Homo sapiens: one gene and its partners. The protein of the gene in region 4 purifies or fractionates together with the protein of the main gene of each other region. This does not show direct contact. Each region holds a gene or a part of one and is shown on either strand. Other genes may lie near its edges.

What was found.
Region 1: the proteins of NSUN6 (region 4) and WDR13 fractionate together in Homo sapiens (co-fractionation; one large-scale study listed by BioGRID). This does not show direct contact.
Region 2: the proteins of NSUN6 (region 4) and RPE fractionate together in Homo sapiens (co-fractionation; one large-scale study listed by BioGRID). This does not show direct contact.
Region 3: the proteins of NSUN6 (region 4) and MARCHF8 purify together in Homo sapiens (affinity purification with western blotting; one study listed by BioGRID). This does not show direct contact.

The regions. Positions count from the first base shown.
Region 1 is NC_000023.11:48,595,819-48,600,432, reverse strand, and holds the start of WDR13 (WD repeat-containing protein 13), read right to left. Parts: upstream 2,942-4,614; 5' UTR 2,819-2,941; exon of another isoform or gene 2,476-2,818; 5' UTR 2,437-2,475; coding exon 2,396-2,436; exon of another isoform or gene 1,717-2,395; coding exon 1,476-1,716; intron 1,081-1,475; coding exon 971-1,080; intron 847-970; coding exon 716-846; intron 115-715; coding exon 1-114.
Region 2 is NC_000002.12:210,015,465-210,019,637, forward strand, and holds part of RPE (ribulose-phosphate 3-epimerase), read left to right. Parts: intron 1-508; coding exon 509-648; intron 649-739; coding exon of another isoform or gene 740-793; intron 794-1,042; coding exon 1,043-1,177; intron 1,178-2,008; coding exon 2,009-2,095; intron 2,096-2,325; coding exon of another isoform or gene 2,326-2,423; intron 2,424-2,688; coding exon of another isoform or gene 2,689-2,754; exon of another isoform or gene 2,755-2,757; intron 2,758-4,173. UniProt on the Homo sapiens protein: Catalyzes the reversible epimerization of D-ribulose 5-phosphate to D-xylulose 5-phosphate.
Region 3 is NC_000010.11:45,461,872-45,466,044, forward strand, and holds part of MARCHF8 (E3 ubiquitin-protein ligase MARCHF8), read right to left. Parts: intron 2,488-4,173; exon of another isoform or gene 2,457-2,487; coding exon 2,368-2,456; intron 2,126-2,367; coding exon 1,280-2,125; intron 1-1,279. UniProt on the Homo sapiens protein: E3 ubiquitin-protein ligase that plays several important roles in innate immunity and adaptive immunity.
Region 4 is NC_000010.11:18,648,373-18,653,291, forward strand, and holds the start of NSUN6 (tRNA (cytosine(72)-C(5))-methyltransferase NSUN6), read right to left. Parts: upstream 3,216-4,919; 5' UTR 2,832-3,215; coding exon 2,757-2,831; intron 274-2,756; coding exon 118-273; intron 1-117. UniProt on the Homo sapiens protein: S-adenosyl-L-methionine-dependent methyltransferase that specifically methylates the C5 position of cytosine 72 in tRNA(Thr)(TGT) and tRNA(Cys)(GCA). In vitro also methylates tRNA(Thr)(AGT).

The DNA of each region.
Region 1 (4,614 bases), on a different chromosome or scaffold from region 4:
GCACGCGAAGCACTGTGGGTGGGGCAGGCACCAGCTGGCACAGGGAGATGCTGCCGTCGAGTGAGCAGCAGGCCAGGCGGTGTCGGTCATCATTGGCGAAGCGCACCCTTGGGACTGCAATGCCAAGAAGCCATTAGTGGGAATCTGCACACTCACTGGGCACTTTTCTCTCTAAAAGGCTCTGACGTGTGTGCCTGGGGCTGGGGCCCCACTGCATGAGGAACAGTGGCCTCAGCAAAGGGCTTTCCTTGGCTGACAAAGGGAACTGTAACCCCTGAAGACCCTCTGCCAAAGCTCCCTAAGTCTTAGCAGCTCCTTTGCAGATTGCAAAAGTCTTCTGCAACATGAAAAAGTTCCTGTCTTAGCGAACACTTTATAATCAAGGTCTTGGCAATTTGCAAAACCCTTGACACTGTAGCCCACTCTGCCCTCTGCAAGGGGATTTATCATCAGCAAAGGCTTTGAACTCTTCCAAGTGACTCAGGAACCCAGGCAGCCTGCTGCAAAGGGCTCTCTCTTAGGCTTCTGAGGCCCTTTCCAGTAGACGAAGCACTGACCACTTTGCAGAGGGATTTTCAGTCTACAAAAGGCTTTATGGATGGTCATTCCTCCTTTGGAGTGTGCCAGGGGCCTTGGATTCAGAAAAGGATGCCTTGGTTGGTTGTCACAGTTTGGGCAAACGCTTGGTGATGGAACCCGCTACCCACTGGCTCACCTGCCTCATCCACGTGCTGGTCAAAAACATGATACATGCCCGCAAAGGCATAGTTCTCGCTCAGTGACGTGTCCCCGGCCATGGCCCGACTTGCCTCTGCTGCTGACGTGGGCACCACGCTGCCAGGGGGCCTGGGCCCCAATAGGAAGTGAGGGGTGACAGGAGGTAGATGCGAGAGTGTTCAGTCTGCCATTGCCCCAGGGCCCCTCTCCTCCTCGCAACCCGCCCCCCGCCTTGGCTGCCTCTGGTGCATACCTGTCCTCATAGACGGCACGGTTCATCTGCGCCTGCAGCTGGTAGGAGCCTCTGCTGACAGAACGACGGTGCCCACGGGCCCCCAGGGCCCGAGGATCATCCTCAAAGTCCTGCAAATGGAGAGGGTCAGGGTGGGTGCATCTTGCAAAAAGCCCGAGAACCTTTGAGGTGTGGAGCCCTGAAAATCTACCTAGAGTCAGATCACTTCTCACTGTGTCCCCTGCCACCACCACCGCTGCCCACTTGTACTACTGCAGTGGCTTCCTCACGAGTTCTGCTGTTCCTGCCCTCCCCCTGCTCAGCAGATACTAAAGACAGGGCTTGCTATATGTTTACTGACCTGTTTACAAAGTTTGTGTGTTTACTGGTTTACTTGGCATATTATCTTTTTGTCCTCTGCTGATGCAGAACAGTGCCCAGCAAAGAGCAGGTGCTTGATGAAAGTCAGTGGAGTGAATGTGTGCAGGCAGGGTATGCCCGGGGGTGAATGTGGCCAGAAGCTCACCTCCATGCGGTCAAGAGTAGTGCGGCTACTGCGGACGATGCTGTTGCTATAGGCACGAGCACTGCCTGGCTCGGAGAGGGGCCCGTAGCGCTGGCCCAGCAGCTGCCCCCGAAGCCTCAGGTACTGCCGACGCAGCGCTGGGGGGTGCCCAGCCTTGGCATTCTCCCGCAGCAGCTGGCTGCGCCGGCGGATATACTGCGTCCGAAACTGTGGAAACGTTGGTGTGCGGTACGCGTTGTACCTGCAGGGTCAGGATGCAGGGCAGGCAGCAGGCACAGGACAGAGGGAATCAATCAGCTCGGGGGGGGGGGTACGGCAGGAGAGTGAGGTGTGTGGCAGTGACTGGGGCCTAGGTGGTAAGAATGACTAGCAGTGGTGATGAGGGACCTCTTGGTCCTGTGGTGGGAGTGAGTCTGCAGTAATAATGAGCATGGTCATGAGGTCAGTTTGCAGACAACAGAGTCAGTCTGCTGCCGTGCTGGGGTCCCTACGGGGTGACTGGGTCAGCGCAGACAATAATTAGGGTCAGTATACCAGGGCGACAGAAATCAGACTGACATTATGGGGGTCAGCGTTGGGAGGTGATGGGGTCAGAATGGGGAAGTGATGATGTAAAAAAAAAAAAGTCTAGGGGACACCCATAGGGGATAGGATGTCACCTGCCTGAGCCCCACCTCCCTCTCACAGGTAGCCGCTTTGCGCATGCCCACATCTGACCACATTTTCCCAGCTTGCTGTTTAGAATCCTCTCCGGCGCAGCCAACTCACCGCGGGCGTGCCCGCCCCCGCTACTGCGCATGCTCACCTCCGGCATGCCCACGCAGCCGCATAAGGCAAGTTCTCCGCCCAGCCTCACTTATCGCCATTGCGCATGCACCACAGTAAGTTCTGCTCCCATGGGCTTTGACCCCACGCCTCACCTCGCGTCCACTGCTAAGACTTGCTGCCACACCGCGGCCATTCCCCGGCCTCCTCCTCTGGCGTGTCCGCCCGCGGCAGCCTGCAGGACAAGGGCCTGGAATGTGAGCGTCCCGAGCGAAGGGATCTAGTTCCGTCCCTTCCACCAGGCGACCATTGCCATAGACATCGAGTCCCTCCGCGCCGGAGATGTCACGAACTCCCCCCCGGGTGTTACCATGGTCATCACCCCAGCCCTGCCCTTCCTGGGCAGCGCCCGGGTGACACACAGCGATTCAGAACAGACACCGCCCCTCCCCAGTCGCCATAGCAACGCCCCTCCCCCGCCTAGCATTCCTTGCTTGACATTCTCCACCCATCTTGTCCCCGCCGCCCTCCGCCTTCCCTTCTCAGATCCAAGAGCATAGCCCGGGATCGGGGACCACCTCCGGGGCTGCCTCCGGTTCTTGAGGCCCCCCGGAGCGGCCCTGAGACCACTGTCGCCGGTTCCTTCTGTCTCTCCTCCCTTTCTCAGGCTCCAGGCAAGATGGCTGCCTGCTATCAGAAAGAACTGCCGAGCCCAGAGCGAATCGATAGGCATCCTTCCCAGGGCGTGGGAGTCTCGCAGGCGCATTGAGGGACATTGGCTTCAAGCCCAAGGACGGAGGCTCCACCCCTTGACTTCTACCCACTCGTTAATTGCACTTTTTGTGTATACAAGGATAATGTCCAAGGGACATAGCGTCAGGGGTGAGTTTGCTAATCATTCCCTAGAAATCAGAAGTACAACATTATAAAAAAGAGAAGAAACACGACTTTTAAAAAGTGGTGTAGGGCCGGGCGCGGTGGCTCACGCCTGTAATCCCAGCACTTAGGGAGGCCGAGGCAGGTGGATCACTTGAGGCCAGGAGTTCAAGACCAGCCTGGCCAACATGGTGAAACCCCGTCTCTACTAAAAATACAAAAATTAGCCGGGTATGGTGGCGGGCGCTTGTAGTCCCAGCTACTCGGGAGGTTGTGGCAGGAGGATTGCTTGAGCCCAGGACGCGGAGGTTGTAGTGAGCTGAGATCGCGCCACTGCACTCTAGCCTGGGCGACGGGAGTGAAACCCTGTCTCAAAAACAAAAACAAAAAAAGTGGTGTAGGCCACTTTTTAGCAGCACAATCTTGTCCAAGCAAAACTTGAATAATAGAATAAAAAATCATCATATATGCAAAGACGCCTTGAAAGTTCACCAGTTCTTGCAGTGGGCCTCTGCACACCCCTGGGATGAGTAAGGTCGGTTGTGTGTGTGTGACTGGGATGGTTGGACTTGGATGCCCCCAGACAGCTTGAGGCTTGAGTTTCTTTCTTTTTTTTTTTTTTTTTTCTTTTTGAGACGGGAGTCTCGCTCTGTCGCCCAGGCTGGAGTCCAGTGGCGCGATCTCGGCTCATTGCAAGCTCCGCCTCCTGGGTTCACGCCATTCTCCTGCCTCAGCCTCCCAAGTAGCTGGGACTACAGGCGTCCGACACCACGCCTGGCTAAATTTTTGTGTTTTTAGTAGAGAGGGGGTTTCACCGTGTTAACCAAGATGGTCTCAATCTCCTGACCTCATGATCCGCCCGCCTCGGCCTCCCAAAGTGCTGGGATTACAGGCGTGAGCCACCGAGCCCAGTCGAGGCTTGAGTTTCTAAAGACAGAAGATAGAATTAGGCAAAAGAAGCTTTGGGGTTTGGATCCAAAGAGGCTATCTGAATCATCTCTATTTCAACTTCCAGCAGGAAGCTGCTTTCAAACTGTTCATCTTAACGTTATCAGGGTAAACTTCCTGTTGGATCTTAACATCAACTGACATAAAATTCAAAGCTGTTATTTTCCACATTATTTTTATAACAAATACAATCAATTCAACAATGTTTTAAAGTCACCGAAAGATCACACTGTATTGTGTTGACTCAGCATCTCCCTTGTCCCTGTAACAAGCTTATCAGTGTCTTTTCATATTAAATACTCTTTTGTAACATGATTGATAAAGAGTAAACTCTATTTCACTGCACAAACATGTAACCTTAACAAGAACAACTAATATTTATGAGACAATGTGCTGGGTACTGTTCAAGGTATTTTATACATATATTAATCTATTTAATCTTTTTTTTTTTTTTGAGATGGGGTTTCACTCTGTCACCCAGGCTGGAGTGCAGTGACACGATCTTGGCTCACTGCAATCTCTGCCACCTGGGCTCAAGCAGTCCTCCTAC
Region 2 (4,173 bases), on a different chromosome or scaffold from region 4:
TACTTATTTTGTTTATTGTTTGACTCTCGCATTAAGAATGTAATCCCTATGACAGGAGAGTTTCATGTTTTTGCTCTAACCCTAGGACCTAGAATAATTAATGATGCAGCAATAGCTCGATAAATTGAAAGAATAAATGAAAAGGATCACTTAATTTTTCCTAGAGGAAACTAGTTTGCATGGATAGTATGACTTATTCTTTAAGTTTTTTAGAGTGGCATTTCCTGGACCTGGACCTAGATTTCCTGATTTTTAGATGTTAACTTTTTATATACAGCACTGTATGCTTTTTGTGGGAAAATAGTGTTTTTTGTAAATGAATTTAAATAAATCCTTGTCTTCAAAATAAGAGGAAACTACCTATACTGAATTAGAACTATTTAAATAATGATTTGTGTGATGGCCAAAGAGTTCTTATCAGAAGTGGCAAAAACTACATACAGGTTGGCTTCCAATAACATGAGCCAGGTATTTTTCAGTAATATTTTGAAGTGTCTTTTCTTTCTAGACATGCACATGATGGTGTCCAAGCCAGAACAGTGGGTAAAGCCAATGGCTGTAGCAGGAGCCAATCAGTACACCTTTCATCTCGAGGCTACTGAGAACCCAGGGGCTTTGATTAAAGACATTCGGGAGAATGGGATGAAGGTAAGAAATCGTGATGAGAGTGTTTTGTAACATTCACTCTCAGTTGGGAAGATTTGCGGGAAACAGGAAATTTTCTCTTTTTTTGATACAGTCTTGCTCTGTCACCCAGGCTGAAGTGCAGTGGCACAGTCAGGGCCCATTGCAGGTAAAGAATACCTTACTTAAGCAGCTGTTCTTCAGCTATGATGCCAGGATTTAACTTCTTTGTCACATAGCATTTATGTATTCCACTAAAGTTTTCTGAAAGCTACTGCTTGTTGAAAATACTTACATTTAATAGTCTTGTTAACTTTTAAAAAATAAGAACAGATATTTCTACTGGGCCTGCTATGCCACAATAATATAATACAGAAGTAATTGTAAATGTGATATAGCATATTTGTGTCTGTTACAGGTTGGCCTTGCCATCAAACCAGGAACCTCAGTTGAGTATTTGGCACCATGGGCTAATCAGATAGATATGGCCTTGGTTATGACAGTGGAACCGGGGTTTGGAGGGCAGAAATTCATGGAAGATATGATGCCAAAGGTAAAAGAAGTATTTGATTTTGGGGTGAGGCTTTTACAGTGTGTTCATTCAGTAAGCATTTATTGAAAGGCTTGTATATTTAGGCATAACCTGTTCTGAAGGTGAGGAGATGGGGATGCTTACAGATCATTCTAATACAGTATAATAAATGCTGTAATAGATTTCTGATTTGGAAATCAGAGAAGTATTACATCTTTATCTTGAAATTTTCTCTTTCTTTGAGACAAAGTCTTGCTCTGTCACCTGGGCTGGAATGCAGTAATTCAATTAGGGTTCATTGCAGCCTTGACCTCCTGGACTCAAGAGATCCTCCTGCCTCGGCCCCCTGAGTAGCTAGGACTACAGGTGCATACCACCATGCCCGGCTAATTCTTACACATTTTAGTAGAGAGGAGGTCTCACTACGTACCCAGGCTGGTCTTGAACTCCTGGGCTTAAGCTGTCCTCCCACCTTGGTCTGCCAAAGTGTTGGGATTACAGGTGGCAGCCAACCACGCCTGGAAGTCTTGAAATTTCCTTTTGAAACTATTATCTCTAACTTTTAGATCTCTTGGAAGTTGTCATTGACTATTGAGGATTTGTCTGTCTTGTTTACATGACAGTCTCTGCAAAGACAATACAGATTGCTGTTTGCCAAATAGAACAAAGCTTGCTATTAAAAACCAAGTGTTCCCCAGTAATATGTTGTATTGGTATAGTTATTGTGTGAGACAATTGGAGTTTTAATTGCTAATATTTGCTGTTGGATTTTTTTGTTTGATTGTCCCCCACCCCCACCCCCACCAACATACCCACTTTAGGAGTTACTTATTTCCTCATGTATATATCTAGGTTCACTGGTTGAGGACCCAGTTCCCATCTTTGGATATAGAGGTCGATGGTGGAGTAGGTCCTGACACTGTCCATAAATGTGCAGAGGTGAGATTGCTCTTCAACTATGACTAGACCAATTTCCCGTCAAATATGTCTCCAGGACATTGTCTCATGGGCCAGCGATTCCCTCTGTGGTTCCTAAGTTGACTTTCTTTCTTGGAAAAGTATTTTTTGTTCACATGTACAACTAGGAAAATAAACAGCCATAAGTGGATATGCTTTTTTTTTTTTTTTTTTTTTTTCTTTTTCTGAGACAGTCTCTCTTTGTGGCCCAGATTGGAGTGCAGTGGCGTGATCTCTGCTCACTGCAATCTCTGCCTGCCGGGTTCAAGCGATTCTCCTGCCTCAGCCTCCTGAGTAGCTGGGATTACAGGTACCTGCCACCATGCTTGGCTAATTTTTTTATTTTTAGTAGAGACAGGGTTTCACTATGTTGGCCAGGCTGGTCTCAAACTCCTGACCTCAAGTGACCTGCCTGCCTCGGCCTCCCAAAGTGTTGGGATTACAGATGTGAGCCATGGCGTCTGGCCCGTAAGTGGATATTCTAAAATCACATAAATTGTTAAAATTGTAAATCCTGGTTTTCTCAGGAAGGCTGAAGAAAGTTCTTTTTTATAAAAGAATATGTTGAATTTCAGCCCTTTGGAAGATCATTAAGTTTCACGGCCTTGGAAGTGAGAAATTTTTCCAAAATACGGAATTAAAAGGTACTACCAAGGGGGGAAAATAGATAAATCTAATTGACCTAATTATTACATTATTCTTTAGAACCTACATATTATTTAGTTGTTCCTTGTAAGAACTTGCTAGAACCATTTTTGATGAAAATCTAGGCCTGATACCTCTTTGGCTATCTGTATAGAAGTAAAAACTTTTTTTTACTTTTTTTTTTTTTTCAGATAGCTAGTCTAGCATAGTCAGGCTCCTGAGGATGCCAGCCCTTCTGGTAGCACTGCAAGTGATTAAAGCTTACATGACTGCTTTTCTTCCACAGTGTGATGTATCTACTTCCAGGTTCTTGTATAACTGCCACACGTTTCTGCTTGATATATACCTATCAAAAGCTTGACAGTAGTAAATACTTATGCAGGAGGGGCTGGCCAGATGATGAGTGAGCTCATATCCTTTTGATCGCTTGTGGAATTGCTTTGTACTAAACTGTGCTTTGCCAGTATACTATTCCTGCTTTTATGCCAGAGGTAGCAAATTTTTTGTGTGAAAAATCAGACCTTGGCGATGACCTTAAACAGCAGGATATGAAGAACTCCCACAAGCTTAGCGTTCCAATAATGGAACACTAGGCATAAATGGGTTAACTGAAGAGAATATTTGCAGTGTTAACCCTATAAAACTCACCTTTATAATTTCTGTGAGGAATATTGTTAGAAATGTTGTCATACATGAAGTGACACTATCTGTCTGGAAAAATTTTCCTCAGCCTGTGGTTCTCCCACTTCTCCCTCTTTGTTCTAGCAATGAATCACAAAACAGATTGGGTTTCCATCCTTGAATCAGATCCTAGGAAGATCAGAGTTAAATTTGGACCCAATTTTTTAGCTTTTCTTTTTCAATTTCTTTGCTTCCATATTTAAATGTATCTTAAAAACTTTTTTAAAGCCACTTCAAAACCATTCTGAAATGCAATGAAGTATAAAGAGACATTCTATTTTTTGACACAAAAACGAGAACTCACTTAATTTTGCCGTAGTTTATGGATAATTTTACATTTTTAGCAATAATTGTCCTTTCACACTCACAAATTCATATAAATATAATTCAAAGAATAAAAGTGTTTTTTTAGTAACTGTAGAGGCATTGGTGCATATTGGGAAAAACCTTAGTGGACTTGAGGAGTAAAGGCTTTTAAACCTTATCTAAAGGTCGCAAAGATACCATGTAGATTATTAAGAGTTGGTTTACCAGAAAGGTCAATGATTTCTTAGACACATTTAAAAATAGTCTGACATCCTCATCTGTGAACATTTTAAATTTTTCTTATTGAACTAGATTGCTTAAGTCTGCTTAATCTCAAAGTGGCTCTCATATGATTGAAATGTTGACAGATGCAAGGGTAGACACTCTAGTCCAGGAATTCTGTTTTAGGTTTTTCTACATTTTCCTTT
Region 3 (4,173 bases), about 27 Mb from region 4:
ACAACTACACATTTCTGTCGTCTCTCAGCAAGTAAACAAAGATGACAGTACCTCTCTCCTAGACCTAAAAAACTCACCATTACAAGATGCTGCAATTTCATCTCTTTTTCTTGGGACCACTAATAGCAATAAGTGAGAAATTAATTTGAAAGCACTCTCTATTTCCAAGGAAGTATGCAACAAGGTGTAGCTACTAGCCTGAAGGAACTTAACAGGCTTTTAAGAAACAGAGGGGTCTTTTCCAGCAGCTAGAGAACAGGTTGGGGCACTCGTCCTGGAAGGAGCCAGGCTCTCAGGCTGTTTTAGTGAGGGGATCTCTGATCCAAATGTTAGAAATGATGACAGCTGGCACTAAGGAGCGGAGACTGGAGAAAGGTCAGAATGAGGAGGGCACAAGAGTCATGACAAAAAGTGAATTATGGAGGCCAGACAAGGATGCTGCACAAGGGAAGATAAAGGGGGGAAACAGAGTTAGGATGGGACATAGGTGGCTACACCTCAGTTAAAAAGAAGGAAGGAAGGAGCTACTGGAGAACAGCCAGTCCCCACACACCTTTTGGGGGTAGGTAGGGAGCAAGGGTTAAAAAAGAGGCTGGGAGATGCAACAATGCTTAAAATCTGGACCATCAGGCTGGAAAACTGAAGATACTAGTTTCTTTCTTCCAGTTTCTTTATGCAAAGTCTACTTATTTTTAGTTTAGAAGAGTCAGCTTGGCCTTTAATATGTGTAGCTTCTTCCTCTTTTTTTTTTTGTTTTGTTTTGTTTTTTTTTAGACAGAGTTTCACTCTTGTTGCCCAGGCTGGAGTGCAATGGCGCAATCTTGGCTCACTGCAACCTCCGCCTCCCGGGTTCAAGCAATTCTCCTGCCTCAGCCTCCTGAGTAGCTGGGATTACAGGCGCCCGCCACCACGCCCGGCTAATTTTTGTATTTTTAGTAGAGACGGGGTTTCGCCACGTTGGCCAAGCTGGTCTCAAACTCCTGACCTCAGGTGATCCACCCGCCTCAGCCTCCCAAAGTGCTGGGATTACAGGCGTGAGCCACTGCGCCCAGCCAGCTTCTTCCTCTTTTATCATTTGTAAAACTATCTTGGGACTCACATCATAAAAATTAAGTTTTTCAAACGATATTGATACTCCATTCTTCTGGAGAAAACCATCAACCCACAACTGGTTACAACTTCCTATTACTTCATTTTCCTGAAACTTCACATACTAAAGCAAGAGGAGGTTCCTGATGCGAGCAGAGATGGCTAGAATGGCACTTCCTGGCAAACCAACCTGCAGACATCCCCTGACGTGGACACGGGAGATATGGGGGGTAATTTTTCAGAGAAGGGAGAAGGACAATCCAGGTCGCTGTCCTTTTCCGTGGAGCAGAGGGGCGCCCGCAGAACCCTACTCTTCAGTTTTGCAGATGTGCTGTCCTCAAAGACATCGTCGTCTCCCATCTCGTCAGAGCAGAAGCCCATACTCCCTGCCAGCCCGCTGGAGGACTTGGCAGTGTGCAGGCGAGCAGCGCAGCTCTCCAGCTCATGGAACCTGTGCAGGCTGCTGGCGCTCAAGCCGTGCGAGAGTGAGAACAGGTACTGGAGCAGTTGCCGGCTTCGGGACGTGGCCTCACCATCCGCCTTCTCTTCCAGCAGCAGGCCGGGCCTGCCCCCCTTGCCAGCTTCCACCTCTGAGGCAGTTGAGCGACCGGCAGAAAGGCATGAAACACAAGAATGTTTGGAATTGCCAAGAGGTTTGTGGTTCAGGGTTCTTTTTTCTTTATGATGAAACCTGTTAGTTCTGAGACACGTATCTTGAGGGAGTATTAATTTCCCTTCAGAACAAGTTCTTTCCACATAGGCAAAACTTTCTGAAGTATCCTGCGCCTTCTCACCCACATCATTGAGGGACCTTGAGAACTTTAGTGTTCTTCTGGCTTTGGTATTCTTAGCAGGCTTCAAGGCCTGGGCCCATTCTGAACCAAAGGAATTTCTCTTTGACGCCTGTAATGTGTCCTTACAGATAACTGTCACAGTGAGCCCTTGTGTCAGAGAACTCTGGCAGTGAGGAGCTTTCGAGACAACAGCAGACTGCACGGAACTGTGGTGACAACACTCAGAAAACACTGCACTGGAACTGCATGCAGAACAGTGGGATAAAAGCACAGAAAGTAAAAACAATTTTAAAAGAGAATAGACATCATAGTGAAGAAATGAGACTAGCATGGGTAACTTGGTGAGCAAACCACACATAAAACTCGCCAACTGTTTAGACCAAAGGCAGATTGATTAAGCAAATGGAAATTCAAGAACCTACAGACACTAATGCTTATTTCTGGCTGCACACTGATCATGGCAGCATCTGAAGCAGAGTGTTACCTGCAGATGTCCTGGCTGGATGGCGTGATAGAAGTGCGAGAGAAGGAGGACACCGGAGCCGGAGCTGATGCTGACGGAGGACTCCCAGCCTGCAATGACAGACCTGTGGTCAGTGTTCAGGTAAGAGCCAAGGGGATTGTGTGCACTGTCTCCTGAATGGTGACAGGGAGAAACCCTAGAAATGTCTGCTGCTTCCCGCTGCTCAACGAGTAACACATATTAGATCCTTCTAAGCCTTGGCAAAACAAATCAAATATCACTATTTTTTTCTTATCTGTGGATAAAAGTGTAAGAAATGTCTAAGGCTATGGAACACCACTACTAATCTCTTGCAGGTCCAGTGGCCGTTTATTTTCTAAGCATCTAAATTGAGTTAGTTCATATATAAGTCAAAAAACGAAGTACTAGAAGGTATCATACAAATGCCAAAGAAATATGAGGCTCCAGGCCTGCTGGCACTGGCTTCCCTAGCACTCTCTCCTAGTTCCCAAGATCAACAAGGCTGGTAGATTTAAGAGCTCTCTCCCACCTCACAACCTCATACATAGTGCCAGATGCTCCCTGAGTTCCACAAAACCTCACTGCCCTGCCACAGCTCTTCACACAAAAGGGAGTCCAGACCACGTCACCATGGGGGACACCAATCCATAGCTCAACCAGGGGCTGAGGTAGAGCACAGAATGCTCCCAACAGATCTAATCTTGAAACTGTAAATTAAGAAAAATAATCAAGAAAATTTAGATTTGAAAGAAAGTACAGCAAGAGGTCATGGGATAGAACAGAGTCTCTGGGGTGGTGAATAGTCAAACTTAGAGAAAAAAATCTAGGAAGGAGAGGAAGCACTGCAGTGAGGAGAGAAATGGACAGAGAGAAATAGGGACAGTGAGTGGCACTGAGCTGAGGATGCACCACCACCGCTAGAGGGCCCCAGACTCCCACGCCAGCCTCGGATTCCCCAGGCTCCACAGCCCCACAGACCTATGCGTATTCATAAAAAAGCATTCTTCCCTCCTTAAGACAGTAAGCCTGAGTAAGAATCTGCTCCATGCAACCCCAACAGCCCCAGGAAAACAGTGCCACGAGTCTGTTATCACCAGAAAGGCCATATCACCACCCACCTTCTGCAGGCCCACCTGCATGGCCCTTGGCCCTAACTCCTTGATACAAAGGAGCTCCACCCTGGCCCACCATTCCCTGGCTGAGGCCTAGTCCCCACTCTTTCTAAGTACCATCCCCAAGGGTGCACTCTCATCCTGGAACTCCACCTTTGGGACCCCCGACCCTTGGTCAACCACCAGAACAGATAAGGCCATTGCCTGGAAACTCCTCCTCCCCCTACCCCTCACAGCAAATGAAGCAGCCTGGAGAGAGCCAGGATGGCACTCGGATTAAGGCACCCATCGCATGGCTGCTCCCACTCCCAGTGCAGAGATTCAACAGCACTTTAATGCAAGTCCACCTGAAGAAACAAGATCCAAGAAGCTCTCATCAGCATGCTTCATGTGTACACTGAGATCACGCTGTGCCACTCCATGAGCACATCTTCGAATTCACCAAAGAATCTACATTTATTTTCTAACTGAATGTGCATATGGGCATGAGGTACACGGTCTTTAAAAGCATTAGAGGTCAAAGTTCTTAGGAATCTTAAGTTTACTTGGACACATGAAAATAGCATCCTTGAAATAACCCTCCCATCACTACCTTTGTCAATATTCTTCCTGAAACAAAATGAAAGACATCTAGGGATGCCTGTGGACACTATGCTGTGACATCCCTTGCATCTTCTAGGCCTGACTGCATAAG
Region 4 (4,919 bases):
TCAATCTCCTTATCTGTAAAACTGGAAGTGTATTATATCATTCATAGGATTTTAATGGAAAACATGGTAGATTGCAAAAATGTAATTATGTACAAATGACAGAAAATTTCCACAAACCTTCTGAAGTTCATCAAGTAACAGATTTTTCACATGTTGTACTGAGGCTAAATGTGTATTCACTCTGACAGTTGTAAATGATGGAGGATGTGACAGGTGCTTTAACAAAGTTTCAAACTTCCTTTCTGCTTCTTGTTTACCTAAAGCAGTCACAATCTAAAAAGAAGTTCATGTTTAAATTTCCTGAGAATTAAAAACAGTCAGCAGAGCATCCTTATATATTAATTCCATCTAATGAAACATCGCTTAGCAATTGTTCAGCTCCATTCTATTTTGCTGTATTGTTTATATGTTAATAGCAACTAAGGAAATAGTAATACTTCACGGGGTTCTTGGGCTTCAACATGGTAATAAACACCTAAGAAAATGCCTGAAATAAAGGGCTTAGAAAAACATTGCCTAAACTTCAAAGCATTATGAACATTTTCCAAATATTAGTATCTGCTACATTTATTCACATAAATTCAGGAATTCAGTCTATTTATAATGCATTACCATTACAGCATCTCTGTAGAGCTAGCATTATATCCAAGTTAGTTGGACGTTAGCTAATTAGCTAACATCATATCCAAGAGCAAACTGGCTGGTATCCTTTTAAAATACCAATATTTAAAAAATAAGTAATATTGATATAGTCACTGTCATATAAAGATTCCCCTAGGACATCAGCTTTTTAATATGGTGTTATTAAATGTAACAAATATATATTATCCAAAAAAGATGAGTAGCAAAGACACCTGTCAAATATGACGGTATAAAGACTCAACAATATTCCCTTGTAATTAACCGAAGCTTTTCAAGAAACGTATTTCTTTGTCTTCCTATTTGACTAAACCCTGCTTTACAGAATCTTCACAAACCACTTGTTAGCCTACTCATGCACCAGCCTTAAAAGTATTCATACTTTCTCAAGGTTTAGTCTTATCAAAACTGAACATTCAGCCTGGGCAACATGGTGAAACCCCATCACTACAAACAATACAAATATTATTAGCCAGAGTGGTGGCCCCTGTCTGAGGTCCCAGCTACTCGGGAGGCTGAGGTGAGAGGATCACTTGAGTCCCAGAGGTCGAAGCAGCAGTGAGCTGTGATCATGTCACTGCACTCCAACATGGGCAACAGAGGGAGACCCTGTCTCAAAAAAAAAAAAAAAAGGCATAAAACTTAATATTCCTTTCCCTTCAGTACTTTTCACAAAGGCATAGCTTTTCATTTTGTAAAACCATACCACTGATGAGACTCGAGGCAGAGGCAGTGTCAAAGAAAGACGTTTGGATCTTCTTTATAAAACGACGTTCTCCATTTTAAAATCTGCTGAAAAAATTGTGGTATGCCCCTACTTCTCCTAATATGTGCCTTATATTTTAAGTCCCTTGAAATCAACAGAATATATTTTCTCTTTCCATACAGTCTAGTACCTCAAGCTAATCTTTGGAAATGAAACGTAGAAATCAAATCTAAAAGGCATGGCTTCAATAACATATTCAAAAATGAGTAACATTTAAGTGGTGTTACTCTAACTAAGAAAACTAAAGATTTCAAAAAAAACAAAGTTGCTTAGAGGCAACATGGTAAAGTGGTAGAGAGGACAGGCTTTGCAATAAAAGACAATCAACATTTACTGAGGACTTCTGTGGCAGGCACTGCCAATTGCAAACAAAATTAACATTTTTTGAAGACTTACATGCCAAAACAATGCAAGTTGTTTTCATTTACGTTTAATATCCTAAAACAACCTGGTAAAATATTTTTAACTTGACTAAAAAATTAAAGATTTGAAAAAAAACAAAGTTGCTTAGAGGCAGCATGGTAAAATGGAATAGACAACAGGCTTTGCAATCAAAGATAATCAACATTTACTGAGGACTTTAGCAAATAAAATTAACATTTTTTGAGGACTTACATGCCAAAACAATGCTAGTTGTATTCACTTACGTTTAATATCCTAAAACAACCTGGCAAGATATTTTTAACCATTCTCAATTTTTCACAGAAGAGAAAAATCTAGGTTAAGCCACGTAATTTACAAAGCACTAGAATGCAAATCATGTGCCTGAGATTCAAAAGCTGTACCTTTGTTCATTACACCTGAACTCTTTCCCTCCAGATTTCAATAGTTACTTGATAGCTGTGTCAACTTGGATCAGTTACACAATTCCTTGAGCAGTTTTCTGCTCAAGTCTATTAAAAGAGGAAAAACCTCTAAGAAAAAAAAGATTGTGAAGATTAAAGATGCAAATCTCCTAGCACAACTGCTGGCATTTAAGAGGCACTCAACAAATTACAGAAACCTTTTCACCTGAGTGCCAGAGCCAGCGCTCTTTTAAAATTCGATTCGAGTTCTTGAAGACAGGGACCTTTTCTTGTTCATCCTTGTAACCCTTTGTGCCATGCCTGACAGGCACATGCCTTTTTTCCCTTCTTTTCCACTCCTAAATGTTAAAACATATACCTTATTCACTTCGTATCTCAGTAAGCTTTAATACCTGTAGAAACATATTGGTATTTTTACACTTGATAGACAAGTAGTAAGGAACGACGGCTGTCAAGATTTCCCTTTATACTTATTTCTATTTCTCTCGAGTGTGCGAATATTTGAGTTTTTGCAAAATATCAACTAACATCTTTACTTGACCTACCTCCTTATTCATAAAGCCTTCCTTAAGATAGTTTTCAACCTCAGGTCTCAAAGATATCTTAGGGAAAATAGACATTTTTCCTGTTGTTTAGTTCTCCACCAAGAGAAATGCTGGAAAACGGTGTTTTGTTTTTTTTTTTCTTTCCGAATTAATAGTGACGAGTGTCTTGACACCAGATGCTGAGGAAAATCTTGCCGATCACGCTGAGTTAATTTCGGAAATGCAGAGGTACACGCTTTCTCAAGCCTAGCCGATTAGAAGGGGCTGCCGGGCTTCCACCACACCTCATCGAGGCAATGTTTTCTGGTAGAGATGCTCATGGAAATCACTGAGCCAATGCCACTCACGTTGCAAAGAACCAAAAAAAGAAAAAAATGCTTAGTAACTGAATCCGTGGTGAAACGGACGCAGATCAGTAAGCCAGGCTGACAGCAGCTCGGTCCCTTTATCTTTTCTATCAATTTCCAAACACGCGCCCCCTATTTCTCGGCGGAAAGTCGCTTCCGGCTTACGTCACGTCCGGCGCCTGCGGCCCACCCCTCCCTTTCCGGTCCCCCAATCCACAGCCGCAAGTTTCCCCAACACTGCGTTACGCTACGCCACGCCCCCGGAGGTTCCTAACCCTGCGTGAGGCTCTTTCACCTGCCTCAGGTTAAGTAGGCAGACCCCGCGGGCGGGATGGTCAAAGATATTTAGTTCCCGGTACCGGAGGGCTAGGTGCCAGGGGCAATGGGGAAACAGCCAAATGGCGTGGGTTGAGTGGAAGATGTTGCTGGACTGAAAAAAGGCACAGCCCAGTTGCTGTCCTGCCAGATGTCCTCCAGTTAGAGGATGAGGCCAGAATTTGGGCGCATCAGCCACCGTTTGATTTCATGACATGATTTTACCTCTCTCAGGCATACAGATCTGACTTCAGTTGTGAAGTTCATAGGGTTCATATTTTTGAAAGTTGGGCTAATGGTCTGTTAATATCCAATGCTCAGGTAAAACTTAAAACCCACAGACAGTGTTTACAGTTAGTTATAAGGCTAACTGCTACTTGTATCATAGTTGACATATTCTTTAGAGTTTGGAAGACCCTCGCCATTATTTTTTTTTCTTTTTTTTCATCATAAGCAGACAAGGATATAGATTCAAAGAACGAGGATATCTAACCAAACTCACTGAGTCATTTTATAACTGTACAGGAAAGTCAAAATAATTCTATCACCTTGACATATGTTTTTTGCAGCACACCATGGTAATTTACACATAAGTATAGGAAAGGGTTTTTTATTGTTTTTTTCTCTTTAATTTTCACACCGAATTATACACACAGACACACACACATAGAACAGGTACTTTCCATGACACACCAACTCTTTACCAGAAAGAGTAGAAAATAATGAATGACCATTATACCACACAACAACCTGCAAGTTGTTTATCATTTTCTCTGCTCTTTTTTTTTTTTTTTTTTTGAGTCTCTGTCGCCCAGACTGGAGTGGAATGGTGGGATCTCGACTCACTGCAACCTCCACCTCCTGGTTCAAGAGATTCTCCTGCCTTGGCCTCCCGAGTAGCTAAAATTACAGGCATGTGCCACCAGGCCCAGCTAATCTTTGTAATTTTAATAGAGACGGGGTTTCACCATGCTGGCCAGGCTGGTCTCAAACTCCTGACTTCAACTGATCTGACTCTCTAGCCTCCCAAAGTGCTGGGATTACAGGCGTGAGCCACCACGCCCAGCCCATTTTCTCTGTTTTAAAGAGTAAATCAAGGTTCCTAGGGTTGAAACAACTCTCCATGTTCTCACAAATAAAAAGCCAGGATAAAGACTAGTAATTTGGCTTCTAGAGCCAATACCTTGTCCTTGACCATAGCATATTTCTTCAATAAATCCATGAGATTCTTTCATGGCTAAAACATCTGAAAGTGATAAATGTCTAAATCAGACATTTCCAAAGGAATTTCTGTAGCCTGAATTTCATGGTGACCATAGCACCACTGATGGCTAGAATCTGTATTTTAGCGATAAAGGAGGAGAAACAAGTTGAACTACATTTTAAACTCCACAAGGATAGAGACTTTATCACACCACTATGTACCCAAGCCTAATCCATAATGGGCACTCAAATACTTACTGAATGACTAAATGAAAAGATGGATGAACATCTCTATAAA